Homo sapiens: one gene and its partner. The protein of the gene in region 1 purifies or fractionates together with the protein of each later gene. This does not show direct contact. Each region holds a gene or a part of one and is shown on either strand. Other genes may lie near its edges.

Region 1 (15,186 bases):
CCAACCTATTCCATTGTGAAGTTGCTTTTTCTCTCTATGCCATACATATTTTGTGAGAAAGATACTTTAAGACTATGTAAAAATATCCTGTTCATCATCACACTTTATATTTGTTCACTTATTTGTTAATATCTGTATGGATTCATCGTTTCTTATTTTATTCAACAGATTATAATCCGTTACTATAATTATTTATTCTGATTCTTACATTGTTCTGGATTTGGCCAGTGGGGGTCCCTTCACACCAGCTCTTATGTTCTTTTAACATGTCTCCTTTGGGCTCTGATGTCCTTACACTAGGCTGTCTTCCCATGCGGATGCCCTCCTCACTCTGCTGTGACTCCTCATGCCAGGCCGCCTGCCATATCAGTGCCCTCTCTACCCTTCTTGGACCCTGACATTCCACCAGGCTACTTCTCTGCGTGGATGGTGGTCTTGCTTTACCCCATCTAGTGGCTTAGGATAAAATTATTCAGGAAGGAATATTTTCTAAGTGACTATGAATAAGTATTTATCATGAGATATTATTTTTAGTGTTTAGATCTCGGATCCATTTGAAATTACCCTTGTGTATTATATGAGATACAAATCCAATTTTATGTTTTTCCAAATGACTATCAAAATGATTATTCTAGTACCATTTATCAAAAAGTTCATCTGATTTCAATTATATGCATGTATTTTAAATTTATGTAAATGGCATTATAGTAGATATCTTTATATTATTTACTTTTAAAAATCAGCACAGTGTTTTTAAGATAAATTCCTATTGCTCTGTGTACATCAAATCTGTTGCATCTAACTCTGTACAACATTCAAGTATGCATTCACTACATTTTTACCTACACCATAATGAATATTTTAAAAAATGTTCCCTTGCGGACCCATGTGAGAAATCCTTTAGAATATATGCCTAGAATTGCTGGGTAGTAGAATGTGCAGGTATTTAATTTGACAAGTGCTTCCATATTTCTCTCCAGGATCATCATAGTACTCTGTGGGCTGGCAGCAGTGCCTGAGGATCCCTGTGACTTCTCTCCTGATACTTGGCATTGTCTGCCTTTTTAATTTTTACTCCATGGCACAATGTGTTTTTTTGTTGTTTGCTTTTATTTTGTTTTACTTTGTATTTCTTTGGTTATTGTTTTCAACATTTATTTACATTCTTATGAGCTTTTTGGACTTTTTTTCTTTTATACATTGTTTATTCCTGTCCTTTGCCAGTTTTTCTACTCAGTTGTTGTCTTCTTGTTTATCAGCAGGAATTCCTCATATACTTGAAATAGTAAAACTCTTGTTGGATTTAGACATTCAAATTGCCTATATCTTTTCCCTTTCTATTATCTATTAACTTTGTAGTCTTTATTAAGTATAAATAGTTAATTTTCAATTACTCAGGCTTATCTTTTTTTTTCTTTTCCTTTATGGCTTATTTAAGAAGTCCTTCTATGCTTTTAGAGCACAGAGGTATTCTGCATTTTCTTTTATTAACCATATGGTTTACCTTTCACATTTAGGTTTCTTAATACTCTTAGACACCACTTTAATATGTGGTATTATGTAGGGATCTAGCACTAGGTAGGGATCTAATTTTAATTTTCTCTATAAAATGAATCAGTTTTCCTAACTGTATTGTCTTTATAATCACTTGTAATCACTCTTTTCAACAATATTGTATATCTCTCTGTTTACTGAAATCTTTTATGCCTTAGTTCAGTTGTGTAGTTTTCTTCATATGGGTCCTGCACATTCCTTAGAAAATTTCTAGGTATTTTGTAATTGTTATTGCTATTGTGAGTGAAATATTTATTTATTTGTTTTATTTAAATCTTTTTTATTTTTAACTTTTTTTGGGTACATGGTAGGCATATATATTTGTGGGGTACATGAGATGTTTTGACACAGGCATGCAATGTAAAATAATTAGATCATGGAAAATGGGGTATCCATCCCCTCAAGCATTTATCCTTTGTGTTATAAACAATCCAGTTACATACTTTTTGTTATTTTAAAATGTACAACTAAGCTCTTATTGAGTATAGTCACCCTGCTGTGCTATTAAATAATATGTCTTATTCCTTCTCCTTTTTTTTTTTTTTTTTTTTTTTTTTACCCATTAACAATCCCCATCTCACTACCAGCTTCTCAGTACCCTCCCCAGCCTCTGGTAACCATCCTTCTACCCTATGTTCATGATTTCAATTGTTTTGGTTTTTTGATCCCACAAATAAGTGAGAACATGTGATGTTTGTCTTTCTGTGCCTGGCTTGAAATATTTATTTTTTATTATGTTTTCTAAGTGTATATTAATACAATATTTTCAAGTCAAATTTTTTTTTCAGTGGATTGTTACATGTGCTTCAAGTATATAGCATATTACCTTGCTAAAAGGCACGCTGTCTCTTTTGTTTTAATGTTTTTTAAATTTCTTCTTTTAGTGTAATTATACTAGAATTACAGAAAAAGCAGGTATCTATTTTTTATCCTGACTTTAATTGTAATGCATTCAGCATTGGACTTGGCTGTATAATTACTGATAGCTTTTTAATGTTAAGAAAGTATTCCTCGGATCCTTGTTTTCTAGGATTTTATTGAGGAATACTTGTCGAATATTATCAAATACCTTTTAAGCATCAAAGGCCGTGAAGATAATAGTCTCCTCCCGTGTTACCTTGTACTCTTTGGTTTCTTGGAAATGTATTTTAATACACTCTACATATTGCTCAGCTTACATGCTGAGTAGGTGTTAAGGATGAAGGAAGATGCAATTGTCACTTGTCACTCTCACCAGTGAGACTGAGAGCATTTCTTTCTCCCATATCCTCTCAAGGTCATTTAAATTTTTTTTTATGATAAAAAAAGTTTAAATTTGCCTTTGACTACCATTTGCGTTTCCTTTTCAGTGAAATGGCTGTTCCTGCCTTTTGTCTATTTTTCGCAAATATTTTCTACCAATATATATCTTTTAACTTTGTTTATGGTCTAGTTTTTATTGTTAAATAGTTTACTTATTATTTGTTCAAATCTATTTCTTCTTCCTTTGTGGCTTCTGTGTGTTCTGACTTAAGAGGGTCTGCAACACCCTGAGAGTAAACAAGTATTCTCTTAAATTTTATTTTTATATTATAATCTTATAGATTATTTTGAAGATGTTATGAAGTAGAGATTATGTCTATTGCGTGATCATGCATGCCATCTTTTCTGTCTGAATTGAATTGCTACTTCTATGTTGTTTCTTTATTCTAACAAAATGAGATAGATTCACTGAATATTAAAAGACTTTGGGAAAATGCGAATGTTATCTTTATGTATCTCAATCATTATGAATTCACCTACTAAATTAAAGAAAATAGCACTGTTGGCTGGGTGGGGTGGTTCACGCCTGTAATCCCAGCACGTTGGGAGGCTGAGGTGGGTGGACCATATGAGGTCAGGAGTTTTAGAGCAGCCCAGCCAACATGGTGAAACCCCCTCTCTACCAGAAATACAAAAACTTAGCAAGGCGTGGTGGCACACATCTGTGGTTGTAGCTACTCGGGAGGCTAAGGCAGGAGAATTGCTTGAACTGGGGAGGCAGAGGTTGCAGTGAGCTGAGATTGCGTCACTGCACTCCAGCTTGGGCAACAGAGTGAGACTCTGTCTCAACAACAACAACAACAACAACAACAACAACAACAACAAAGCACTGCTCCATTCATGCATCTTTCTTTTACAACATTTGGAACAAAGGCAGTATTACAAAATAGAAAACAGAAAAGAATACAAATAAAATTATTTTGCTTTTGATATTCTTTTAAGACCAAATAAGAGAGATTATGGAGAAAGGATATTGGCATTTTAACTGCAACCTTATACTGATACTGAATGTTTGTATGACTACGAACCAAGTTTTATATGTGTGTGTGTGTGTGTGTGTCTCTGTGTGTGTGTGTGTGTCTCTGTGTGTGTGTGTGTGTGTGTGTGTGTAGTTTGTAGGAAGAAATGTAGCAACAGATCAATGATTCATATCTTTAACAGGATGGCATAGACTTACTCTGCATTTTGAGTTATTTTTCCTTTGGTATAGATGGATCATGCTGATAGTCACTTATTACTTAATATATATATACAGTTTCTAATATACCTTTCCTTTGAAGTTACCCTGAAGTGTTTTTCTGTTTATATGTGGGTCTCCTCCTTTTCTATGCAATTTGCTGCTTAAGGATTATACTCATTAATTTTTGTTTTTATTATGCTACAGGAGGAGTTGGATTTGTCTTCTAGTTCTCAGATGTCTCCCCTTTCCTTATATGGTGAAAACTCTAATAGTCTCTCTTCAGCGGAGCCACTGAAGGAAGATAAGCCTGTCACTGGTCCTAGGAACAAGACTGGTATTACTCTATCTCCTAACTTCTGTTATTTCTATTTCAGATTGAGCTTAGGTTCCATTTCTTAAAAGAAAATGCTGGATTAAATTTATGTTTATTAGGCTGGCTTGCTGTTTTTTAATTGGTGGACCTATATTGTTTGTTGTGAGTGATTACCGTGGAGAGGAAAGGGGAGAAATAATCTTTGGTTGTCTCTGTCTTTACAGGTGAAAGATACTTTAAAATAGACTCAGACCCCACCATCTTCAGGAGAGATTTCAAAGTTTCAGTTAAAGATAACTGAATGGAGCTATGACATTTGTTACCTCATTAATCTCTGGGTGTTATCCCGTGATTTTAGCAATTCTCCTTTACCAGTTAGTGTGTCCCATTCCCAAAACTGCAGCTTGGTTAGAAAAGGAGGTAACAGTTTAAGTACTTTTCTTCAGTTCATTCAGGTATATGTACTGTAGCTATGCTTAAACTCCAGTTAAAGATTGTTAATCGAAGTTAAGATAATGTGTAGAGAAAGGTGTGTGATAGAATCTGTTTTTTAGGGCTTGCGTAATTGCTTTCACATTGACTTGTGGTTTGTCTGGTTTTTCTCCAGAAAATGGACTGACTCCAAAGAAAAAAATTCAGGTGAATTCAAAACCTTCAATTCAGCCCAAGCCTTTATTGCTTCCAGCAGCACCCAAGACTCAAACAAACTCCAGTGTTCCAGCAAAAACCATCATTATTCAGACAGTACCAACGCTTATGCCATTGGCAAAGCAGCAACCAATTATCAGTTTACAACCTGCACCCACTAAAGGTACCTGAGCAGAATTTAAGGCTGTGTAAATTTATTTGGAGGGCAGTAAGGGTTGTGTCATATGATTTGTTTTAATTCAGGTTATAATTTCTGAGCACGTGCTGTTTGTCAGGAATGTCTTTGGTTATGAGGACGTTGCAGAGATGACTAATGTGTGGTTCCTGTCATAACAAGGGATATAGCTCTCCAGACCAGTTACATCTGATGGTTATTTTGAAAATCTGGGACACTTTCTTGGTGCCATTTTATTCTGGTGGATAAAATACAGGAACACAAATTTTAAGCTAGTTGAAGGCAGAGTTCAGGTCAGCCAGATTTTTGTGGCTGTGAACTTTTTTTGTTTTGAAGGAATATTTAAAATAATAGGGTCCATTTCAGGTGTGTTATAGCAATAGAATCACACCCTTAATCTCTGAGGAGGCTGCATGGTTTAGTAAACAGTATATTGACCTGGTCATGAGGAGACCTGAACTCTGCTTTCAACTAGCTAAGAATTTGTGTGTTTCGTATTTTATCCACCAGATGGCCTCATACACTTGTGATTCTATGAGAGGTTTATGTCATTATTGAAAGAAGTTCAAGTCTGAGGATTTGGTACTATTCAGATATGGGAGTCATTTCCGTATGGAGATCTCTTAGGTAGATTAGTCATCATTGTACTCATACTGATATCTGTATACACTGGGTACAAGAAAACTTTTGCAGCATTCTTATCTCTGGATTTAGTTTGTTGGCACCAGATATGACTAGGCGATAATGGGGTATGGGTTGTAAATAAACACCAATGTTACATTTGTACTGTATCTCCAATTGTGAATAGGTAGCTCGTTTTTTGGAGCATAGTTTTAATGAGGGTAAATTTGATAAATTTAATTTCCAGATACTCTTTTAGCTTTGTTCTATTACATGGTCATAGACAATATGACATTGATAAAAAGAAGACCTAGATGAGAGAATGGATGAATCAGTGAAAATTCATCCATCAGTCCCACCAAAAATAAACAGACAAACAAACAAACAAAAACCAGTTTGAAATGCCTGCTCTCTCAGTACAAAGTCAGAACTGCTGCCTTTTCCATCTGAAAAGTAGCATTCCTATAGAATAGGTATTCTTGTGATTTATAAATGTGTATTAAGGGTTCATGAACTCCTTGAAACAAAATGCAGGATTTAATGTATGTTCATATGTGGATTATTCTAGGGATAGTCTCCAAAACTTTCATTAGGATCTCATAAGGATCTGTGCCTTCCCAAAGGCTAAGAATTTAAACTAATGAAGAACCTCATTGTAGTTCCCATAAGCTATTAAAATACGTCTATACAAAAAGTCTGACATTAATATGACTAGCGTATAAAGCAGGGGTATTCCTAAGAATTTGCCCTTAGCAGATCATTGACTATGTTTGAGTGATGGAAGATCTTACCTATAATAAGAAGACAAACTGTTCTTTTCTGAGCAGTTTATCAGTTCCAGAAACCTGAATTACACATTATTTGAAACTTCAATACTTTCCTGTCATCTGAAGACTATAGTTATTTTTTTGTGAGCATGTGCTAATATGAGGAACTGCACCTTGCCTGTTTTTTTTCTTTTATTTGAGACAGAGTCTCGCTGTGTTGCCAGGCTGGAGTGCAGTGGTGTGATCTTGGCTCACTGCAACTTCCACCTCCTGGGTTCAAGTGATTCTCCTGCTTCAGCCTCCAGAGTAGCTGGGACTACAGGCACGTGCCACCATGCCCAGCTAATTTTTATATTTTTAGTAGAGACAGGGTTTCACCATGTCGGCCAGGATGGTCTTGATCTCTTGACCTCGTAATCGCCTGCCTCGGCCTCCCAAAGTGCTGGGATTACAGGTGTGAGCCACCGCGCCTGGTGCCTTGTCTGTTTTTATAGTACAATCTAAATAGGTGGTATTATTATAATAACATACAGATTTAAAGTATGTTTTTCATTTATTTGAGAATGGGGAGGAAGAAGGGAAGTATGGGCAAGACATTATACAGTTAATCATGTTAATACTAGTAGTAAATATGTTACCATTGAAAAAGAAGAGGTAATTTCCACAGGTTTAAGACTGAGATTCTCTAGCTTGGAATGTAAAACTCTTCACAATTTGGCTCTAGTTTAGTTTTTTGTTTTTTTGTTATTGTTGTTTGTTTGTTTTTAATAGAGACAGGATCTCACTATATTGCTCAGTCTGGTCTCGAATTCTTGGGCTCAAGGGATCTACCCACCTTGATCTCCCAAAGCTCTGGGATTAAGGCGTGAGCCACCATGCCTGGCCTCCTAGTTTAGTTTTCGAACTTTATAATATTACTCTTTTCTATAAATCCCTTCTTCTAGCTCAACTAATCTGTCATTGTCCTTTGAATTCTCTTGTTTTTCCTAGTTTTTTGGCTCACCATTTTCTACCAACCAGCAACAACTTATGCCTACTTCTACTTCTCAGTCCTCCATGTCCTTTAAGACTGTTTTGAGTAGTGTAGATGAGAGATAATGAAAGCCTGGAATATCAATGAAAGTGGAGAACCAGGATGAAGAGTAGAGATGTTAAAAGTGTAGAATCTTAGAGATTGGTAATTGGATTGTGTAGAAGGAGGCTGAACGATAGAGAGGAAGGTGTCTAGGATGACTTCCGTTTTTCTATCTTGGGGCTTTTTGGGTAGATGATGGCGAAAATTATTGAAATGGGAGACAGAGGTAAAATATGTTGCCCAGATCACTCTGCTAATAAGAAGTGGAGCCAGAACTTGAGCCCAGGTGGTCTGGCTCGGAGTCTATGTGAATAATCACTATACTGTATCGCCTTAAAAAAAAAATGACAGATGTATTCCTTGCTCTCAAGAATTCTACACTTTAATTGGGGGATTAAATTCACATAAACAGTTAAATAACAGTCACTGTGATAACTAATAAATTAATAACTCATGCAGTGCCCTTATGGAAGCTATTATTATATAGAAAAGGAGATTAATAATAATAATAATTGCATTTAAGTTCTTACTATGTGCCAGACACTCTTCTAAGTGCTTAAGTGCATTATCTTATTTCAAATAATATTTACACATTATTTGAAACTTCAGTATGTTTCTATGATTTATGGTGATGGGTTGTGATATCTCCATTTTTTAGATGAGAACGCTAAGTACAGATTATTTGCCCTAAGTCACACACCGATGCTGTTTCAGACAAAGTAGGCATTCAATAAATGTTTGATACATAGTTTAAAATCTTTGAAGAAAGTTTAAAAGAAAGAACTATCAAAATCAGTGAGTTACACATAGTCAAAAAAATATATGGCATTGAATCCAGCCATGTTCCGTTAAGGGGGATTTGCATGTAATGCCAGAGAGGATTTTGAGCATGCTAAAATGGATAAACAGCCTTTGGAATGTCCTTTTTAACTGTTTCCACACTAGGAACAGTAGTAACTATGTTCAGCTGCTATTTAAGGCCCCAAACAATTCTTTGCATTGTAGTTTGTGGCCTGGTCAGCATTTACCAAGTCACCATGAGAGTTTTTTGTTCTTTCACTTGAACATATTGTCATAGAAATTTAGTTGTTTCCCCTCATTCTGTGTTGAACCCAAACATGCCTAGAATATTTAGAGTATCCCTGATTTAGCTGCTGGGTAATTTGAGGATAGTTGGGTACTCTGGGATGAAAAGGCTTGATACAATATGGGAAAAAAAGGAAGCAGCAGTGGCTTGGTAGGACTCAAGCCACATTTGGCCTTGCCTTGGTATTCTTCCATCTCCTTTGTGTGATGCGGTCGTCTCAGCAAGGAGACAGTGGTAATTACACAATTGGTAGTACAGATTTGGATTATTTTTCTTAATTAGTTTAAGAAATATTACAAAGCCCTCTGTACATGTTATCTGCTAGGGCTTTAAATCTGTAACTGTAGCTAGAAATAGGATTCTTTCTTATAAGTTGCCTAATTCATTATATTTACACCTCTTCTGTTCTTTAAAATAGTCCCAAAGTTCCCTGAACAGTGTTTAATTTTGGGGAGGGATCTTTTAATCATAATTTTAAACTCAGAGGATGTAGAACATGGCTTCCTATAATACTCTTCTCAAAGTATTGGTTTAAGTCAGTGGTTCTCAGTCTGTATATTGTGGACCCTGGGATGTGGGTGATGGGGGTAGTAGCTTTATGGCATTTTGCAAAGCATCTGCAAATCCATACTTGAAGCAAGCATTTTCTGTAGACCAAATAATTTATTTCATATATCTTTGTACAGCTCTTCAAATTTTTATAGCTATACTTCTGACTAATAAACTCCAAGTTCATTTTAAATCTTCACTAAATTCTTAGCAGCCTTTTTCCATCATGTATTTTCTCAGTACACAGAAGCTGAAAGGACAACCTTGATGGTTTTGGGTGACCAGGATATTATTTTATATTAAAAGAGAGCCCTTATATTCAGGAGCCTTTGGGGAGAGACTATGGGTTTTCTAGGTGTAGAATTATATCATCTGTGTGAGAGATGGTTTGACTTCCTCTCTTCATATTTGGATGCCTTTTATTTCTTTCTTTTGCCTGATTGCTCTGGCTATGACTTGAGCACTTGGGAATTCTTGTTTTTTGGTTTTTTTTTTCACATTATGATAAATATATATTTTCATAGTGCCAGATTTACTGTAATTTCTTATTGTTATTAAAACCTAACACTTGGTCATATGCTATTTACTTTATGTGTTTCTAATTTTTATTTGCGTATTTGGCCTAAGCATGTTTATATCTGCTTCTGAGTAATTTCTGCATTTTATATGTTTTTACTTCATAAAAGATGGAGGCCACCTCAAAACAAATTAGGCATCAAAGGAACATACCTCAAAATAATAAGAACCATCTATAGCAAGTCCACAGCCAACATTGTAATGAGTGGGCAAGAGCTGGAAGTACATTCCCTTTGAGAACCAGAACAAGACAAGGATGTCCCTCTCACCACTCATATTCAACATAGTGCTGGAAGTTGTAGCCATAGCAGTCAGGCAAGAGAAAGAAATAAAAGGCATCCAAATAGGAAGAGAGGAAGTCAAACTACCTCTCTTCACAGACGATATGATTCTATACCTGGAAAACCCATAGTCTCAGCCCAAGACTCCTAGATCTGATAAACAACTTCAGCAAAGTTTTAGGATACAAAATCAATGTACAAAAGTCAGCAGCATTTCTATACCCCAGTAATGTCCAAGCTGAGAGCCAAATCAAGAATGCAGTCTCATTCACGATAGCCAAAAAAAGAATATAAAGTACCTGGGAATACAGCAAGCTGGGGAGGTGAAAGATCTCTACAATGAGTTACAAAACACTGCTGAAAGAAATCAGAGATCACACAAACAAATGGAAAAACATTCCATGCTCATGGATAGGAAGAATCGATAGTGTTAAAATGGCCATACTGCTCAAAGCAATTTACAGATTTAATGCTATTCCTATCAAACTATCAATGACATTTTTCACACAATTAGGAAAAACTATTCTAAAGTTCACATGGAACTGAAAAAGAGCCTAAATAGCCAAAGCAGCCCTAAGCAAAAAGAACAAAGCCAGAGGCATCAAGCTACCTGATTTCAAACTGTACTACAAGACTACAGTAACCAAAACAGCATGATACTGGTATAAAAACAGGCACATAGACCGATGGATTAGATTAGAGAACCCAGAAATAAAGCTGCACCCCTGCAACCATCTGGTCTTTAACAAAAACAAACAGTGGGGAAAGGACTGCCTATTCAATAAATGGTGGTAAGATAACTGGCTAGCCATATGCAGAAGATTGAAACTGGATCCTTTCCTTTCAGTGTATACAAAACCCAACTCAAGATGGATGAAAGACTTAAATGTACAGGCTCAAATTATAAAAACCCTAGAAGAAAACCTAGGAAATATGGTTCTGGACATAGGCCTTGTCAAAGATTTCATGATGAAGACTCCAAAAGCAATCGCAACAAAAACAAAAATTGACAAATGGGATCTAATTAAACTAAAGAGGCTGGGCGTGGTGGTTCACACCTGTAATCCCAGCACTTTGGGAGGCTGAGGGGTGCATCACTTGAGATCAGGAATTCAAGACCAACCTGGCCAATATGGTGAAACCCCATCTCTACTAAAAATACATAAATTAGCCAGGCATGGTGGTACATGCTTGTAATCCCAGTTACTTGGGAGGCTGAGGCAGGAGAATTGCTTGAACCCAGGAGGCGGCAGGTGCAGTGAGCTGAGATTGTGCCACTGCACTCCAGCCTGGGTGACAGAGCTCAAAAATCAATAAATAAAAATCAACTAAAGAGCTTCTGCACAGCAAAAGAAACTATCAACAGAGGAATAGGACAGCCTACAGAATGGGAGAGAATATTTGCAAACAGTGTATCCAACAAAGGTCTAATCTCCAGAATCTACAAGAAACTTAACAAGCAAAAAACAACCCCATTAAGAAGTGGGCAAAGGATATGAACAGACACTTTCAAAAGAAGACATAGACATGGCCAATAAGCATATGAAAAAATGCTCAACATCACTAATCATTAGAGAAATGTAAATCAAAACAACAGTGAGATACCATCTCACATCAGTCAGAATGGCTACTATCAAAAAGTTGAAAAATATCCGATGCTGGCAAGATTGCAGAGAAAAGTGAATGCATATACATTGCTGGTGGGAATGTAAATTGGTTCAGCCACTGAACGTAGTTTGTAGATTTCTCAAATAACTTAAAGTAGAACTACCATTTGACCCAGCAGTCCCATTACTGGGTATATACCCAAGGGAATATAAAGACACACGCACACATATGTTCATCACAGAACTATTCACAATAGCAAAGACATGGAATCAACCTAGATGCCCATCAGTGGTGAACTGGATAAAGAAAATGTGGTACATATACACCATTCAATACTACACAGCCATAAAAAAGAATGAAATCATGTTCTTTGCAGCAACATGGATGGAGCTGAAGGCCATTATCCTAAGATAATTAATGCAGGAACAGAAAACCAAATACTTCATGTTCTGTCTTATAAGTGGGAGTTATACATTGAGTACACATAGACATAAAAAGGGGACAATAGACAACAGGGGCTACTTTTGAGGGTGGAGGATGCAAGGAGGGTGAGAATCTAAAAATTACCTGTTGGGTACTGTGCTCATTACCTGAGTGATGAAATAATCTGTATGCCAAACACCTGTGACATGCAATTTATCCATGTAACAAACCTGCCTGTCTACCCCCTGAACCTAAAATAAAAGTTGGGGGAAAGAAAAACTGAATCCAAGGGAAAACGAGAAGGTAAAAATGTTTAATGATCATTTATGCCGAAGTATTAATACATTGTATCTACTCCAAATCCATGAAATTATTTTTAGATCTTCTTATCTGGGATAAAATGCTGTTTATTGAAATTCTGCTACTTTCAGTGTGTTTTTTGAGGCCATCTGAAACAAGGGCTTTGCTTTTATAAGTTATCTTTTTTAGCCAAGACAGATGTTCTTGACAAACAGGTGTTCTGAAGCTTTATTTTGATTTTTAGTTTTCCCCGATCCTTTGAAATATTGAGCTGAGTTTTACATGGGTCAACCTGTCTGAAAGCATAATGCTTTTTTTTTCTTAAACAAATTATAAATTTACATGATATTTTAGTTGCCAGTTATTTTAGTACCTTCATTTTGTTAGATAGGCTCAAGCAGCTGTGGATGTTAGGCAAGGCTTTCAGCACCTTATAAAAATCTGCCAGATCTGAAAGGAAACACTTAGCAGGCAAGTAAAATTTTTAATAGATTAGTGTTATGAGTTGTATAAGTCTTTAGGTTAATGGTACAGGTTTAGTACCCCTTAAATGAAATGCTTGGAACCAGAAGTGTTTCAGATTTTGGGTACTTTTGGATTTTAGAATATTTGCATATACATAATGAGATATCTTGGGGACAGAACCCAAGTCTAACATGAAATTCATTTATGTTTCATGTATATCTCATACACATAGCCTGAAGGTAATTTTATATAATATTTTAAATAATTCTCTGCATGAAACCAAGTTTGCATACAGTGAACCATCAGAAAGCACAGTTGTCACTATCTCCTGTGGACAATCTGTAGTTGTTTGGCACCACCATCATTCCTGGCTCTGAATTCATATGCTACTGACAAGCAATCATTTTCTTACACTTATTCACAAATTCACACCTAAGAACTTAACAAAAATTATGACATACCATTAATACAGTGAAAAAATAATGTGTGCAGAGTAACAAGGCAGGACAGTAGAATCACCAGAATACCAGTGTCAGCTACTACACAACAGCAACAACAAAAAATGGCAGCTTTCAGTCTCTGCCTTTGATGCTGTTTTCATTAAAAGCCTACTGTACCCTCTATTTTATGTCTTCAGGTGAGAAGAAACATCAGAAGCAGTTGAGAGACTGGAAGTGGGTCCTCTAGGGATGAGGAGGCATTCTGCTGGATGACTTCTAAAAATGTTTTCTATGGAGTCATCTGCCTCATTAACAAGTTTTTGTTTTAGAAGTCTCTTTTTGATTTTGTAAACTGACATGATTTCTTTTTCTGTTATGACTGTATGCTGCTTTAGTCCTTCACTAGGCCCATCACACATTTTTACCATGTCATCTATAGGCACTTTTTCTGCAGCGTTAACAGCATCATCTTCATTGTCATTATTATAGATTGAGTATCCCTTATCCAAAATACTTAGGACCAGAAGTGTGGAGTTTTCCACTTGTGAAGTTGTGTCAGCACTCAAAAAGTTTTGGATTTTGGAGCATTTTGGATTTTGGGTTTTTGGATTAAGGATGTTCAACCTCTAATAATTCTCGTCAGATTAGCATAAATTTAAAATAATGATACCTCTGAATACTCAGAAAAGAATTGAAGGCCATTTTTGGGGGAAGAGGGAAAGGGCTGGTATCATCTACAGACTATTTTGAATCACAGATTTATGTTTACCGTGATTGTTAGCTAAGATTTAATCTCAAATGGTTTTAAGTTTTTTGGTATTTGTAGTCTTTTTTTTTTTTTTTTTTTTTTTGTCCTTTTTAGGGATCTGCCTGCCTCAGCCTCCTGAGTAGCTAAGACTCGAGGCACATACCACCATACCTGGCTAATTTTTAAATTTTTTTTTGTAGAGACAGGCTATCACTATGTTGCCTTGGCTGGTCTCAAACTGCTGGCCTCCCAAAGCACTGGGATTACAGGTGTAAGCCACAGTGCATGGCCTGTAGCTCCTTCTTCTTCTAATATTGAGTTACTAAGTTTATGTTCAGATATTTTTGGTATTGTATGCATTTGTAAATCCTATTAATTTAGAATACATGACTCTCCATATTCAGTGTAAAAGATTTGTTATTTATAATAAGACAAATCCTTTTAGCACTAATAAATTTCAGAGGTTAATTCTTAGAAATCTAGGGATTACAGCAAATTTGATAGCTGTTTAGTTGAGAAAGATAAATAAGAAAGTATATTAAAGTATATTGTTAATGATAACTCAAAGAGATGAATTTAGTTGGTCACATTAAAAACATAACAAAGTCACCATAAGCGTGTGCTGCTATTGATCCAATGTTTTAATTGATGGTGTCCAATCCCTTGGTGTTGATCTTACCCATTACGTCTGCAGAAAAGACCTAATTATAAGCTGCTTCCCCTGCCACAGTAGTTGTGTACCCTTTGATTCCTTTTCTTTTTTCTAACGCAGGCCAGACGGTTTTGCTGTCTCAGCCTACTGTGGTACAACTTCAAGCACCTGGAGTTCTGCCCTCTGCTCAGCCAGTCCTTGCTGTTGCTGGGGGAGTCACACAGCTCCCTAATCACGTGGTGAATGTGGTACCAGCCCCTTCAGCGAATAGCCCAGTGAATGGAAAACTTTCCGTGACTAAACCTGTCCTACAAAGTACCATGAGAAATGTCGGTTCAGATGTAAGTTTTGAAACTTAGTGCTTCTCTTAATGCCTGATTTAAAAACCAACAAAAAAACACCTTTTGCTTTTGTTGCCTTGT
Region 2 (15,186 bases), about 130 Mb from region 1:
AGCATGTGAGGATTTCACCTTACTGGTGAAGACACACCTGTCCTCAGAGTAGGAGACGGCTTCCAGGAGTATCAGCAAAAACAAACTAAAGGAAAAGACAGAAATATTTAACTACATAAAAAGTCAACCTTATTTTTAATTTTAATTTAAAAAATGTAAATGTTATATTAATTTTATTGAGATGGGTCTCGCAACGTTGCCCAGGCTGGTCTCGAACTCCTGGGCTCAAGCAATCCTCCCGCCTCAGCCTCCCAAAGTGCTGGGATTACAGGCATGAGCCACCGCACCCAGCCCTTAACCATTTCTTTTTATTTTTTTAATTAAAAAAAAAAGATGAAAAAGCTATATGTCAGTTACATCCTTACATAGAAAGAGTTTCTAAAAATCAGTAACACTAATACATAGCAGTAAAAAATAGAAAAAGAATATAAAGGAAATTCATAAAAGAAATAATAGACACAGCCAGTAAGCATATGAAACAAATTCAACCTCAGAAATAATGAAAGAATTACGGATTTTAAAATGCTATGCTTTTTGTTGGCCACCCAATTAGCCATTTATAAGAGTAAGGAAATAACTCAGTCCTGGTGTAAGTTCTGGAACTCACTGGACTGTAAATTGGCACAGCCATCCTGGAAGCAGCCTGGCAGCATCTGTCAAATACCTTAAAAACATGTCCCCCTTGTATTAGCCTAATGGGGATTTTTTTTAAATGTGCCCCACTTGACTCTGCAATTCTGCTTCTTGGAATTTATCCAGAGGGAGACAGATAAGTATGACAAGATGTATATTTTTGTTGTTGTTGTTGTTTTTTCTTTTGAGACGGAGTCTTGCTCTGTCACCCAGGCTGGAGTACAGTGGTGCGATCTCAGCTCACTGCAAGCTCCGCCTCCTGGGTTCACACTATTCTCCTGCCTCAGCCTCCCGAGTAGCTGGGACTACAGGTGCCCACCACCACACCCGGCTAATTTTTTGTATTTTTAGTAGAGACAGGGTTTCACCGTGTTAACCAGGATGGTCTCGATCTCCTGACCTCGTGATCTTCCCTCCTTGGCCTCCCAAAGTGCTGGGATTACAGGTGTGAGCCACCGCGCTTGGCTGACAAGATGTATACTTGTATGTGCGTGACTATTAATTCTTTTTTTTTTTTTTTTTGAGACAGAGTCTCACTCTGTCACCCAGGCTGGAGTGCAGTGGTGTGATCTGGGCTCACTGCAAGCTCCGCCTCCCAGGTTCACACTATTCTCCTGCCTCAGCCTTCCAAGTAGCTGGGACTACAGGGGCCCGCCACCATGCTCAGCTAATTTTTTTTTTTTTTTGTATTTTTAGTAGAGACGGGGTTTCACAGTGTTAGCCAGGATGGTCTCGCTCTCCTGACCTGGTGATCCGCCCGCTTCGGCCTCCCAAAGTGCTGGTATTACAGGCGTGAGCCACTGCGCCCGGCTAATTCTTTTTAAATGGAAAGAACCTAGATGTCCATAAATAGGGAATGGTCAGAGAAATCACTGTATATTTGTACCAAGGAGCCTGTGTAGCTATCTCAAGTGATGTTGCAAAAGAATATTGTGATGCAGGGATGTTAATGGGTTTTTGTTTTGTTTTTTACAGCTTTATTGAGATGTATTTCACATACTATACAATTTATCCTTAATGGTTTTTGTTTGTTTTAAGATGGAGTCTTGCTGTGTCCCCTAGGCTGGAGTACAATGGCGCCATCTCAGCTCATGCAACCTCCGCCTCCCCAGTTCAAGCGATTTTCCTGCCTCAGCCTCCCGAGACAGGCGCCCACCATCATGCCCAGCTAATTTTTTTTTTGAGACAGAGTCTTACTCTGTTGCCCAGGCTGAAGTGCAGTGGCGTGATCTCAGCTCACTGTAGACTCCGTGTCCTGGGTTCAAGCGATTCTCGTGCCTCAGCCACCAAGTAGGTGGGATTACAGGTGTGCACCACCAGGACCAGCTAATTTCTGTATTTTTAGTAGAGACGGGGTTTCACCATGTTGGCCAGGCTGGCCTTGAACTCCTGACTTCAGGTGATCCACCCACCTCGGCCTCCCTAAGTGTTGGGATTAAAAGCATGGAGTCAATGCGCCAGACCTCCCTTAATGTATTTTAGGTGGGAAAAAAGGAAACATAAAATAGCATTACAGTGTGGTCCACATGTTTGTAATAATAAAACTTTATATAAGCATACACACAGTCACACACAGGAAAAACATGCTTGAATGTTAACAGCAGTTATATCTGGGAGGTAAGGTCATGGGTACCTTATTTTCTTATTTTTGCACATGCGTATTTTCTAATGTTTCTGCAGAGAACATCAGTTACTTTTATATGAAGAAAAATACAGGAACAGGCTGGAGTTCTGTGTTTTTGAGTCCATTATGGAAGGGTAAAGGCTACACTCCTAAGGTGGGTGTCAGGCCTCTATCCTGGGCCACCTCTCACCACTCCCTGCCTCGCGTTGGATGCTTCAGCAACACAAACTACCTGGCGTTGGTGGCTTGCATGCCATTTCTTACCTGGGCATGTTTGCTCACTGAGGCCCTCCTACCATGAAGGTCCTTGCCCCTTGCCTGGCCCACTCCTGTATCCTTAGGGAAATTTTCCCGGAGCCCTGCACCCACACTGGGCATCCTGTGACCCTGACCTTCCCCATGTGGAACTCGTCTGTACACATCTGTTTCCTTGTCCCCCCCGGATCCTGCTTTGCCAAGGTGTTTGACTTTGGAGAGCTGGAAGAGACAACTCCTCTTTTGTGTTTTTATCTGTTATTTTTAAATCTGTGTCCAGAGGTGTCTTTTAGCCTCTGGCCCCAATGTCCGCCTTTCATTTTTACGCAGGAGGATCTCGGGATTATCAGGCAAATCAGAGTGCTCAGTGATCTTCAGTAGTGTTCTTTAACTGACTCTTAAATACACAATGAATTTTCTTTTTCTGAAAAGTAATTCAGGAAAAGTTTGAGTTTATGAGGGAAGAGAAAGTAAACCCTGCCATTGACAACTTTGGGGGGTTCTTTCATCTGAGAGGACCAGAGAGTCAAGGAAAGATGGGGAGAGGGGTTCTCAGGGCTGTAGTCATCAAACTCCGTGGGCATAAGAAGCCCCCAGGCCTCGTGTAACAAGCATCCCATTCCTGGGGCCCACTGTCCAGATACGGGCCAGGAATGGGCACCTCGGGTCATTAGGCTGTAGGTATTTGGAGGGCAGGTCTCACTTTGGGAACAGTTGCTCACCTCAGGGCTGGGGTTCAGCTGGATGGGGCTGGCTCTCCTCTCTGTCTCTGTGGTAGTCTCTTGGGGCTCTGTTTGGCATTAGCATCTGCACAAAGCCCAGTTTTCTCCTCTCTGAATTTAACTGGCCACTTGGTGGTGGTGTGTTGGCTCCCCGCCTCTGTACCCTGTATATGCTGCCTTAAAGGATGTCCACCTTTAGCATCTAATTAATCCCAAGTAAAGGAGCTGTGGTTCTTTGTCACTTGGAGCCTTGGATGCTCCCCTGGTAGCAGGAGGAGTTGGAGGCAGCAGCGGCAGCTGTGTGATGCATCCCAAGTCAAAGGCCTGCAGGCTGGGTTAGCATAAGGAAACTCGCTGACTTACTCAGTGAGAAGGGGTCTTTCTGTCTTGTCTAGAGCTGAGAATGAAGCGGAGAGCATCAGACAGAGGAGCTGGGGAAACGTCGGCCAGGGCCAAGGCTCTAGGAAGTGGGATTTCTGGAAATAATGCAAAGAGAGCTGGACCATTCATCCTTGGTAAGCCTCTGACCTTTGGGAAAAATGGGTGGGCTGGGAGGCAGGGGCAGGGCACATTGGCTCGCATGATCTGACCTACAGACATCAGAGTGAGGTGGCCCACCCACAGCAGTGTGTGGTCCTGCCCTGCCCCAGGCTTGGTCCCTAGCTTCACTACTTGAAACAGAATATGTTTATATCAGTGGAAGACCCAAGCCTTGGGTCACTCTGTACCAGGGGCTGTCAGTGTTTTAGCCATACCAGCCTTAGATCAGCCTTAGCCAATAGCTAGGCTCCGACTCTCCCCCCAGAGAATCCTATGTGTGCCCCTAGAATGGTGACGTGCTCACAGGAAGCACACCCATTAGAAGTCATTAGCTGCATTAGAACCCAAGCTCTGGCCAGGTGCAATAGCTCACTTATGTAATCCCAGCACTTTTCGAGGCTGAGGTGAGAGGATCACTTGTGGCTAAGAGTTCAAGACTTTGCAAGCTTGGGCAACATAGTGAGATCCCATCTCTACTAGAAAAATATAAAAATTAATTGGGTGTGGTGTCACATGCCTGTAGTCCTAGCTACTTGGGAGGCTGAGGCAGGAGGATTACTTGAGCCCAGGAGTTTGAGGTTACAGTGAGTCGTGATCACGCCACTGCATTCCAGCCTAGGCAACGGTGCGAGACTCTCTCTCTAAAAAAATAAAATAAAATAAAATAAAATAAAATAAAATAAAATGAAAACCCAAGATCTATCATCCAAGGCACTGCTTTATGCCATTCTTGGATGGCATAATTTCACAAAGCATTTTGTATAGCCCCCCAAATTTATTTAAATTGGCACAGAAATCCTGGCACAGGTGTTGGCAGTTGGCCAGAGGAGCAGCAAAGCATTTCTGCATGATGCATAAGGACCAGCAGTCCAAATTGCTTATAGTCAGGGTTGCAGCCAGAGACTGGGCGTGAGTTTTACTTTGGGACAGCATTTTGGACTTACAGGCTCAGGATAGTTCCAGCTCCAGTCATTCAGTACATACTTAATGGTGTGTACCTACTACGTGCCAGGCCTGTGCTGTTTGCCAGGCCTGTGCTGTTTGCCAGGCATGCAGCAGTGAATAAGACAAGTTCCTGCCCTCACAGAGAAACAGAGTAAACAACTCACCAGTCATCACCGGTGGTGCAAGTGCCTTGAAGGAAGTTCCACGATGACGTGAGATGAGAAGGGCCCGTAGGTAGGGCAGGCAAGAAAGGCCTGTTTATGAGGAAACACCATATGAGCTGACACCTGAGGAGGAGAAGCAGCAACTGTGGGGAAAGCTGGGGAAGAACATTGCAGACAGAAGAAACAGCACTGCAGAGGCCCAGCAGCAGGAAAGGGCTTACCATGTTGGGAACTAGGAGCCCAACATTAGGAGCTGGAGTGTGGCATGGGACAGGGAATGGAACATCCTGTTAGAAAGGTGGGCGGGAACTGAATCATGCAAGGCCTTGGGGGCCAGACAAAGGAGTTTGGGTGGTATGTTAAGAGCAGTGGGTCTGTGAACATTGCACTGGTAAAAAGGAAAACCAAGAGCAGCGGAGCTTCGTTAAGAGTTTTTCACGCAGCAGTGGCACTGTGACATCAGATTTCCACTCTCAAAGCTTGGGCAAGGTGCTGTCACGGGACAGTGAGCACTGTGCATCTCCAGAAGTACAGAAAGTCCCCAAAGCTGGCACTTGGACAGGGGCCAGATGGCTGTATCAGAATCTCCAGGGAACCTGTTGCGGCTCTAGTTTCCTGGATCCTCACCCTGAAGTTGCTCTTCAGGGGATCCAGGATCTCTTGGGTTTTGTTGATTTTTTTGAGGCAGGGCTTTGTTCTGTTGCCCTGGCTGGAGTGCAGTGGCACAAACACAGTTCACTGCAGCCTCAGCCTCCTGGGCTCAAACGATCCTCCCACCTCAGCCTTCCAAGTAGCTGGGTCTACAGGTATGCTCCACCATGCTCAGCCAATATTTTATTTTTTGTAGAGAAGAAGTCTCACTGTGTTGCCCAGGCTGGTCTCAAACTCCTGGGCTCAAGCAGTCCTCCCACCTCAGCCTCCCAAAGTGTTGGGATTACAGGTGTGAGCCACCACACCCAGCCTGGATCTCTTGTTTTTAATAGATGCTCACTAGACATTCCAGCGTGCACCCAGGGTTGAAAACCTCTCTTTGGGAAATGTGTTTGCAAAAGCTGGATGTGCTCCAGGCAGAGCACACATACCCCTCTATTTTTGGAGGGGAGACCTTGAAAACTCTCCACCAGGAGACCTTGGAGGGTCAGTCCAGTACACATGAGCTATGGTGCCCTCCTGAATAGAAGGTCTAGTAAAAGACCACGTGGTGACCTGGCGTCGTGACAGCCAGGGCTTCTGAAAAGTAGACCAGCAGCTCTCTGTGCCGTAGGTCCCCGTCTGGGCAACTCACCGGTGCCAAGCATAGTGCAGTGTTTGGCGAGGAAAGATGGCACGGATGACTTCTATCAGCTGAAGGTAAGTGAGACATGGGGGTGAGGGTGCCTCAGGAACAGGGCCTGTCATGCCAACCCACTCCTCCCTCCTCCACCTTCACACCTGCGTCATTGTGAACAAGAGTAGCGCCATTTCTTCCCGAGAAGCAATCAAGTTCACAGTCTCCCTCAGAACAACTTCTGATTTAAAGAGTTTTGTCTGTGCATAAATTACATCACCATCATATTAAGAAAAACGATTTCACTTGGTGTGTTTGTGTGTGCATTGTGCACAAATGTCATGTGGTAAAAAGCCCCCTGCTTCCCCCGTTCTGGTTGTTCTGCTGTGTAAAGTGAGGTGTTCTGGTTTTGGTTTTATTTTTATGCTTTCCTAAAGATCCTGACCCTGGAGGAGAGGGGGGACCAAGGCATAGAGAGCCAGGAAGAGCGGCAGGGCAAGATGCTGCTGCACACCGAGTACTCACTGCTGTCTCTCCTGCACACGCAGGATGGCGTGGTGCACCACCACGGCCTCTTCCAGGTGAGCGGCCTTCCCCCTCACCCTTCGCGCTCACCTCTGGCTGGCTCTGTGGGCTGCCACTTGCTGGGGCCACAGCCATACGAGCAGCTCACGTGACCCTTGGGTGTCCCTGCCATGCTAGGTACATCAGGACTTCCAGGGTGGGTGAGATGGGCTGGGCTGGAAGTCAGGCTGGGCCACACTAGCTGTGCTCCTGTGGGGATGGTTATAGCCTAGCCAGGAATGCACACAGTTTGCATCTTAACAGCAGCCAGGCTTTCTTTGAAGAGCCACTTTTCCGAGAAAAGAGGAAAGCAAGAAGTCACTTAAAGACACCCGGGCCCAGGCCAGGCACGGTGGCTCACAACTGTAATCCCAGCAACGTGGGAAGCCGAGGTGGGCAGATCACAAGGTCAGGAGATCGAGACCATCCTGGCCAACAAGGTGAAACCCCGTCTCCACTAAAAATACAAAAATTAGCTGGGCATGGCGGCGCACACCTGTAGTCCCAGCTACTCGGGAGGCTGAGGCAGGAGAATCGCTTGAGCCCGGGAGGTGGAGGTTGCAGTGAGCCAAGATTGTGCCACTGAACTCCAGCCTGGGTGACAGAGCGAGACTCCATCTCAAAAGGGCCCCCTTGTCCTTTTTTTTAAAATTTTTTTTTTTGAGACATTTACTGGACAAACTGAAATGCCTGAGCAGGCAGAAGAACAGGTGGTCAGATCCCTTAGGAAAGGTATTGATTAACAGTGTGTACCTGACAAGAACCATTCTTGGGGCAGCACTGAAGTTGTATCTCCAGAAATGAAGAGTTGGGTTCAGAATGACTGGGAGGCCTCCTTCACAGGCTTGGGAACAGCCCCATTCCTCAGCTGAGCATCCACTGAGCCCTCAGCCGTTTGCTGGCCAGGACCAGCTCTTGCTAAGACAGACCTGCTGTTTGAGAGGCACACAGTGCCAGAGAGAGCAGTCACATTTTGATGCTGACAGTCCTGGATTCAGCTAGTATGACCTTGGGCAAGTCACTTAAGGTCTCTAGGCCTCAGATTCCCCATCTATAAAATGGGGATAGTGATAACAGTACCTACCTCCATTGGTGGTTGGGACGATGAATGAGATTGTGTCAAGCACTGAGCTGCTGCTGGAACACTGTCATCATCATTGCTGTTCAGGCATAAAAACTCCTTGTCAGCTTGAGTTCCTAAAATAAAACAAAGGGAAAACACTTCCCATCCCCATGTATACACCCCAGCAAGGTCTTTGTTCTTAGATTTGCAATTAGAGGTGACTCAGAGTATTTTTAGGCAACTCCAAAAATTAGAGTATCCCCATAAACATGAAATCAAATTGAGGGTGATTGTGGTTTCTTGGTATTTTGTCTGTGATATCTTCAGAAGCTTGGCCTTAGTTCATGTCATTTTGGATGAGAGAACCTGGGTGATCAGAAGTGTTTCTAGTGTACTGTTTGTGTGCCAGACACTGTGCTAGGAAAAGCAAATATGAGGTGTGGTCCTGCTCTTAAGAAGAAATGTGGAGGCCGGGCGAGGTAGCTTATGCCTGTAAACCCAGCACTTTGGGAGGCTAAGGCGGGCGGATCATGAGGTCAGGAGATTGAGACCATACTGGCTAACACGGTGAAACCCCATCTCTACTAAAAGTACAAAAAATTAGCCGGGCATGGTGGTGGGCACCTGTATTCCCAGCTACTCGGGAGGCTGAGGCAGGAGAATGGCATGAACCTGGGAGGCAGAGCTTGCAGTGAGCCGAGAGCGTGACACTGCACTCCAGCCTGGGCAACAGAGTGAGACTCCGTCTCACAAAAAAAAAAAAAAAAAAAAAAAGAAAAAGAAGAAATGTGGATATTCAGTCCTTCAGGAGTTCCCCAGAGGGGACAGTCAGTCTACCCCGCATGACACCAAGGACTTCCTCAAGCTGGTCAGATGAAGTCCCCCTGTTTTTTGTCTTACTCGAAATACCTTTCAGCAAGGAAAATGGGTCTAGAGTTTGCTACCATTGTGTCCATCTCGCAGCCACAACATTGGTGGCAGTACCCACTTACTGAGCCCTGGCAGTGCATGACCTAAGCACAGGACATGGATTGTCTTATTTACTTCTCTTGGGCTGTGGGGGAAAGATTACTAGCTCCCTTTTACCGATGAGGAACTAGAGACCTGGAGAGGGTAAGCAGACTGCCCCAGGTCCCACAGCTAAGACAAGGTGGCTGGGGCCTGAACCCAGCAGTCTGAGGTCAGAGTCACTCTTAGCCATCATGTGACTGTCGGGAGTACTGCATCCCGACAGTCCTCTTTTCTGAGAAAAGAGGAAAGCAGGAAGGCACTTGAGGAAAACAGGTGTCCTGGATACACAGAACCTGTATGGCCTCTGGAGCCTGCCAAGATTGACCTCTTTCTAACTTCCGCCATCTTAGATATCAAAAGGGGGTTCTGTTGGTGATTACTGGAATCTGGGTGCCATGGATTCCCATTTTTGCTGCTTGAGCACTGGGCTAAGAGGGCCCTTGGGCTCTAAATGCCCAGACCTGATCTGAATCCTTTGCATTATGATCAAAGCATTAAGCCTTCACCTGAGATGTTTTAGCTTCAGCCTCTTGCTGGTCCTGGCATTTGGCACACAAGAGGCTGCACAGTGCTGACCTGCCCCATGGTCTAGGCTGCCCAGGCCTCAGTCCTCTCTGGCCCGCACATGCAGGCTAATTCCAGGCTCCCTCACTGGTTTGAGTGTCCCACTCCAGAGGAGAGTCCCAGGCCCTGGCCTTGGCCCTGCCAAGTTCACAGCCAAGCCCTGCGCTACCCCCTTGCCTCCCAGGACCGCACCTGTGAAATCGTTGAGGACACAGAATCCAGCCGGATGGTTAAGAAGATGAAGAAGCGCATCTGCCTCGTCCTGGACTGCCTCTGTGCTCATGACTTCAGCGATAAGACCGCTGACCTCATCAACCTGCAGCACTACGTCATCAAGGAGAAGAGGCTCAGCGAGAGGGAGACTGTGGTAATCTTCTACGACGTGGTCCGCGTGGTGGAGGCCCTGCACCAGGTGAGGCCACACCCTGCTGCTGCGCCTTCTGGCCACAGAAAGCCACCTTTCTTGCTGCTGCTGAGCAGAAGGCAGCTCTGTCCTGTGCACCCAGGTGTGCTTTGCAGCTGGGAGTGTCCAAAAGAAGAGTGACTGAATGGCAGGTGCACAGGGTGAGGCACAGTGCCACCCTGCAGGCCACCTTCCTGGTGAGGGCTGACCTGCAGCCCAGCTGTGGTAATTACCACAGCCAACTGTGTTAATTCCCCATCAGTTAAGAGGCCTGGTGTCCACCCCCATGTAGTGATGACAGTGAGATACCCACCCAAGCAACTACAGCACATCTGAGCTTTTTGTAGGATTAGAGGTGTCAGGCACGCTGGGACAAAGGATAGGAGAGCCTGAGCCTCTTCCCGGTGTGCCGCTTCTGTGGGCCGAGCCTGTGGTACTTAGTCACAAAGCCATGACAGCTCCTCCCCGACCCCCAGATCCATCCTGTCCATGGAATGTCTAATGGAGGGGAAAAAATGAGTGACTTTCGCCACCAGCCACTGCCCTGAGGGGAGAAAGAGCTAAAGAAGCTGCCACAGATGGGGAGACACTGACTAGGTGCACATTCATTCCCCATCCAGACGCGCAGGTCACGCGAACTTAGAACTGTCCTGATCTGCCTGTGCTTGGAGCCTAAAGAGACACATCATAGAATTTTTCCTGCCTTCTCGAACACCTGGAGAGCCCCCATCTTACAGGGTGGGCCCTGACCCCACCTCTCACATTGACAATGTAAACCATACGCCTGTTGTTTTACAGAAAAATATCGTGCACAGAGACCTGAAGCTGGGGAACATGGTGCTCAACAAGAGGTAAGATCCCTGTCTCTACATCCATACAGTTACCCCGGGGCTGGGGCAGGCTACACATTGCAACTCTCCAGTGCCCTGAAGTGTCCTCATGAGGATTCCGACTCAAAACAACCCACTTCCTCCAGGAATCCCAGGGCTCGGGATGGGATGAACATGGGAATTGGGGGCTTGCTGAGACTGGGAGTTTTGAGCCACAGAAAGGGAGCTCTGGGAAGAACTTTAGATCTCCCTTGTCCATTTATTTGTCACACCTGGCTCCTAGTGGGTACTCATAAAATTACTATAAAAATGGACTAAATGGTCAGGTGCGGTGGCTCCCGCCTGTAATCCCAGCACTTTGGGAGGCTGAGGCGGGAGGATCACTTGAGCCCAGGAGTTTGAGACCAGCCTGGGCAACATAATGAAGACCCCATCTCTACAAAAATATATATATTTTTTGAATGGACAAATGGGGTGAAGGAACGAGCAAAATGATGCCTTGCCATAGGTCAATTTCCTCAGGAAACAGACTCTGAGGTTTACGTGCAGAAGGTTTACTGTGAAGTGCTCTCAGGGTGAGGGGGTGGAATTAGGCAGAGGGAGAAGCTGAACCGCAGTGAAGTCCCAGCAGGGCCTCAGCCTGAAAAACTCGAGAGTGGGATGGCCTGCAGATGGCCCGCGCTTGGCCTTTGTGCCCCCACAGCAATCAGTCACTGAATGTCTGCTGTCCTTAGGGAGGGGCATTCTCTTAGGCAAGGCAGCTTCTTTTGGCTAAGAGGGCCTCCTGGAGAGGGATGCAGCTGTGAGTGGTTACCTGTAAAATGCCACCAGCTCTCTCAGCAGCAAGGAGAGCATGCCTTAGACTTGGAGGGGATCTGGCGGCCCACCCTTGTTGGGGTGAACCAGCAGCAGAGGGACACCAAGCACGGCCCTGGTTTCAGGTTGTCATCCCGCCTCGACAGAGGGTCCTGGGCCTCTTTGGAGTGATCTGGGACAGTGCTACCACTGTCTCACCATGTTAGAGGGACCACCAACCATGTAGGAACCCAGGACCAGCAGGAAGTGGGCCCACTCTGTGGGCTACCATGATCCTTGAAATGCAGGGCTGAGAAGGGCACATCTCCCCCACTCCGCCCCCACCCATTATTTCTGAGCTCCCCTCTGTCACCTCTCAACTCGGCATTGAGCAGGTTGAAGGGCTTACAAAGGCAGCCTGAATCTCACAGCAGAAGTGTTGTGGTGGGTGATTCATTCCATGATGTGGCCAGCCCAGCCCAGGAAGGGCCCGAGGCCCACTGTCCTCTAAAGAGGCCAAAGCCACAGTGGTCAGAGGAAAAGAAGCTGCCTGGAGGTTGGCCTCCGGGGAGGGGGCATTGCCTTGTGCCCCATCTCAACTGATGGGGAATTACTGCTGGGGGTTCCAGATCCCATAGCTCCAGCCTGAGAGGCCATCGGGACGATGCTGTGCACCTCAGCTGCTAAGCATTCTCCATCCTTCGACTAGCACCACCTGGTGCTGGGGCTGCAGACAGAAACGCTCAGTGGTTCCCACTACCCTCTGGAGCCCACCATCTGATGGTGTACTGACCAGAAGATGGTATCATGTGTGGAGGACTGGCGTGCAGAGGGCAAGGGACATGTGGAGGGACAGTGGCTGCCACCTGAGTCAATTCGTGAAGGATGAGTTGGGATTTGCCAGGCTGAGAAAGTGAAGGGATGAGAACCTTGCCCTGCTATGCTCTGCAGGGGGAAGGGAGGGAAACAGGAAATTCCAGAGCTGCTTGAACCCTGGACTGGCTGAGTGAGTGAGTTGAGGAGGACGGAAGCAGCACTGACATGGGGGTCAGACCTGGCTCACTTCCCAGTGCCACTTCTTCGTTATCTTGGAGACCGTGAGAGTGTGGTCCTCTGGGTACTTACTGATTGAATTCATATATTGAGGTACCAAGCACTTCTCTGAGCTTCCATTTCCTCATCTGTGAAAGTGAAGGTCATCCTGGCTTCCTGGGAAGATTGGCCTGAGATGCAAATCAGTGGGTGTGAGGCTGCGTAATATGATGGGGTTTGGCGCATCACGGGCACACCCCAGTGCTAATGTAGCCAGGACTGGAGAGCCTGTCGCTGAGAGACAGGAGAACAGGACCCATGGGCTCACATCTCTGGAGATGAGGCCTGCTGCATGTTGAGTGGCCAACGAGGACACCCCTGGTGAGGGCCCAGCGGTCCCCCAGCCATAGCTCTGCATCATGAGAGGAGGTGGTGGGGAGCCCCGAGCAAACCAGCCCTGGGCTGTGGAGAGCCAGTTGTCATAAAGTTGGGAAATTGGGTCCTGCCCCTTCCCCTGGCCCTCTCTGGGGCCTTGGGCCAGTCCCATCCTGCTGTGGACTACAGGCTTACTGTTCACAAAGAGAGAGCATATTTTTTGGGCACCTAAATCCATCTGGCTGCAGAGCCCATGTGCCCTCCAGCTGGACTAGAGAGCTCCCAGACCTTCCACAGCAGCCATTCATTGGCTGTAAATGAACATCCCAGGGTTGTCATGGGAACTTGCCGGGCTCATGCCTGCTAACCACACCAGCACTCCTGGCCCTTTGTGTCACTGGGGGATTTGCTTCCAACTCTCACTTCCCCAGGGCCCCTTGGTCCTGGGAGTGTAGTCGAGGGGTCGCACCTCCCTGCATACGCCGGCGTGGCTGTAGCAGCTCTGCTGTGAGTGTGAGTGCGTGCTCCTCAGGGTGCAGAATGCCAATGCCTCACTCATACCCAGTGTCCTGGTTGTACTTCCTGAATCTGATAAATCCCCCTTTTTGTGTCTCAGGGCAGACAGAGGTTCTGGCTGCCTTTTACTTGAGTCATGGGCGCTCCAGAGTGGCAGGGTAGTGTGGTGCAGAGAGACTCACTGCTCCGTGTGTGTCCTCTGGCACACCCTCCGCTCTGGGGCCCCACTCTCACCTCGTTCAGTTGACCTGAAGGAGCTCCAGCCCACTCCAGCCCCTTCCCACCCATCATGCCAGGCTATAACTCCACTGGAGCAGTAGGCGGACCAGCTGGAGGCCTTCTCAGCAGAGCAGAGAGCTCTCAAGGAGCAGACAGGGGGAGGTGTTGGCAAGGCAGCTGCAACAACAAGTTCACCCCGCTTTGGATTTTAAAAGGATCGAAATTCGAAATCCTCTTCTGGGGTTATGTGAGGTGCTGTGGGGTCTTTTTCCTTCCTCCTTTCTTTTTGGTAGGCAAGCAACATACCAAGTTCCTAGAAAAGGAGAAAAACACTGTGGCAGCCCAGAGGGCCATAGCTAAAGCGTGACTCACTCAGAGCCGATCCTACTGACACACGTCCCCTCCCTCCGTCCCACTCTGCCATTGCCCCCTCCTGTCAGGACCAGACTAGGGGGTCTGGGACTCCCGGGGAGCCATGCACCCCCCACTTGGGTGGTGGTGGCAGGGCAGGGGAGTGTTGCCAAACCTCAGGAGGACTTGGAGCTGCCCGTGCCACTTCCTGTGGAGAGACTCCAGTGCGCCTGCCGCTCAGCCCTGCAGAGCCTCAGCTGTGCCTGCCCGTGCCCTGGCAGAGGGTGGGAAAGTCCCACCAGCAGTGTTGAGTTGAAAGCTCAGCCACACTGGCATGTGCTCTCCGGGGCCTGTTGTCACACCATGGCACCTCTCCCCTACCGCCTCCAAGACAGAGTCTTTTCCTACCAGGTGTGCCAACCATCGGAGATGAGAGGACACCAGCTTCTACTATTTGCCAGGCATTGGGCTAAGTGCCCTCCATGAGATTATCTTATCTTGCTGAATCCTAACCCAGTTCTGGAGTTTGGTGCTGGGATTTCACTGTTGTACGCATGAGGAAATTGAGGTTTAGCAAGAGATTCACAGAGCAAGGAAGTGGCAGAGCCAGGACTAGGAACCTGGCTCCCAAACCCACCGTACTTTCTCCTGAGCTGTCCTCCTCTCAGCGTCTTGAGCCTCAGAGACCCACAGGATGCATTTGCAGCTTCCGCGGCCATCTCTGACCAGGGGAGAAAACCCACAGTGCCTCTGCTCTGTGGGAACCTTCTGGACAAGAGGCCCGAGCAGCCCCATATTCAGGGCAGCGGCACTGGAGCTTCAGAGCTAGAGCAGCCCACTCCTTGACGTGCAAGTGACCCTTTGCAGTGACCCTTCACCTGTGCGATCAGGCTCTAGCCGCCTGCGGGCCACCAGTCAGACTCCTATGGCAGCTGACAGGGCGGACCTGTATAGGCGCTGGAGTTGGCGTTTCCGTGGGGAATCCAGAGGACGGGCTGGCCTTTGTTTTGCATCGAGCCCTTTGCCAGCAGAATTCCCCGAGATCACCGAGGGCTCTCAGAGCCGCCTGGATGCGGCTCCCGGGGAAATCCGCCAGCAGCCACACATGCCCTCTGCCTCTGAGAGCTGATTGTAGGGAGAGGCAGCCCAAGGCCCCCATGGAGCTCTCCTTCCTGTTGTCCTCCCAGCTTCTCCCCCTAGCTTCTCCACCCAGCCAGCCGACACAGGAGCAGGGCAGTTGGGTAGAGAGGCATCCTTCCTCACTGCCTGCCCCAGTGGGCCAGGAAACCTTTCCCAGGCCTCTTAGACAGGGC

Evidence for each region.
Region 2: the proteins of ATF6 (region 1) and STK40 purify together in Homo sapiens (affinity purification with mass spectrometry; 2 studies listed by BioGRID and IntAct, with this or other methods). This does not show direct contact.

The regions. Positions count from the first base shown.
Region 1 is NC_000001.11:161,787,168-161,802,353, forward strand, and holds part of ATF6 (cyclic AMP-dependent transcription factor ATF-6 alpha), read left to right. Parts: intron 1-4,240; coding exon 4,241-4,370; intron 4,371-4,956; coding exon 4,957-5,160; intron 5,161-14,884; coding exon 14,885-15,105; intron 15,106-15,186.
Region 2 is NC_000001.11:36,349,784-36,364,969, reverse strand, and holds part of STK40 (serine/threonine-protein kinase 40), read left to right. Parts: intron 1-3,629; 5' UTR 3,630-3,637; coding exon 3,638-3,749; intron 3,750-6,132; coding exon of another isoform or gene 6,133-6,147; coding exon 6,148-6,233; intron 6,234-6,587; coding exon 6,588-6,731; intron 6,732-9,536; coding exon 9,537-9,764; intron 9,765-10,553; coding exon 10,554-10,606; intron 10,607-15,186. UniProt on the Homo sapiens protein: May be a negative regulator of NF-kappa-B and p53-mediated gene transcription.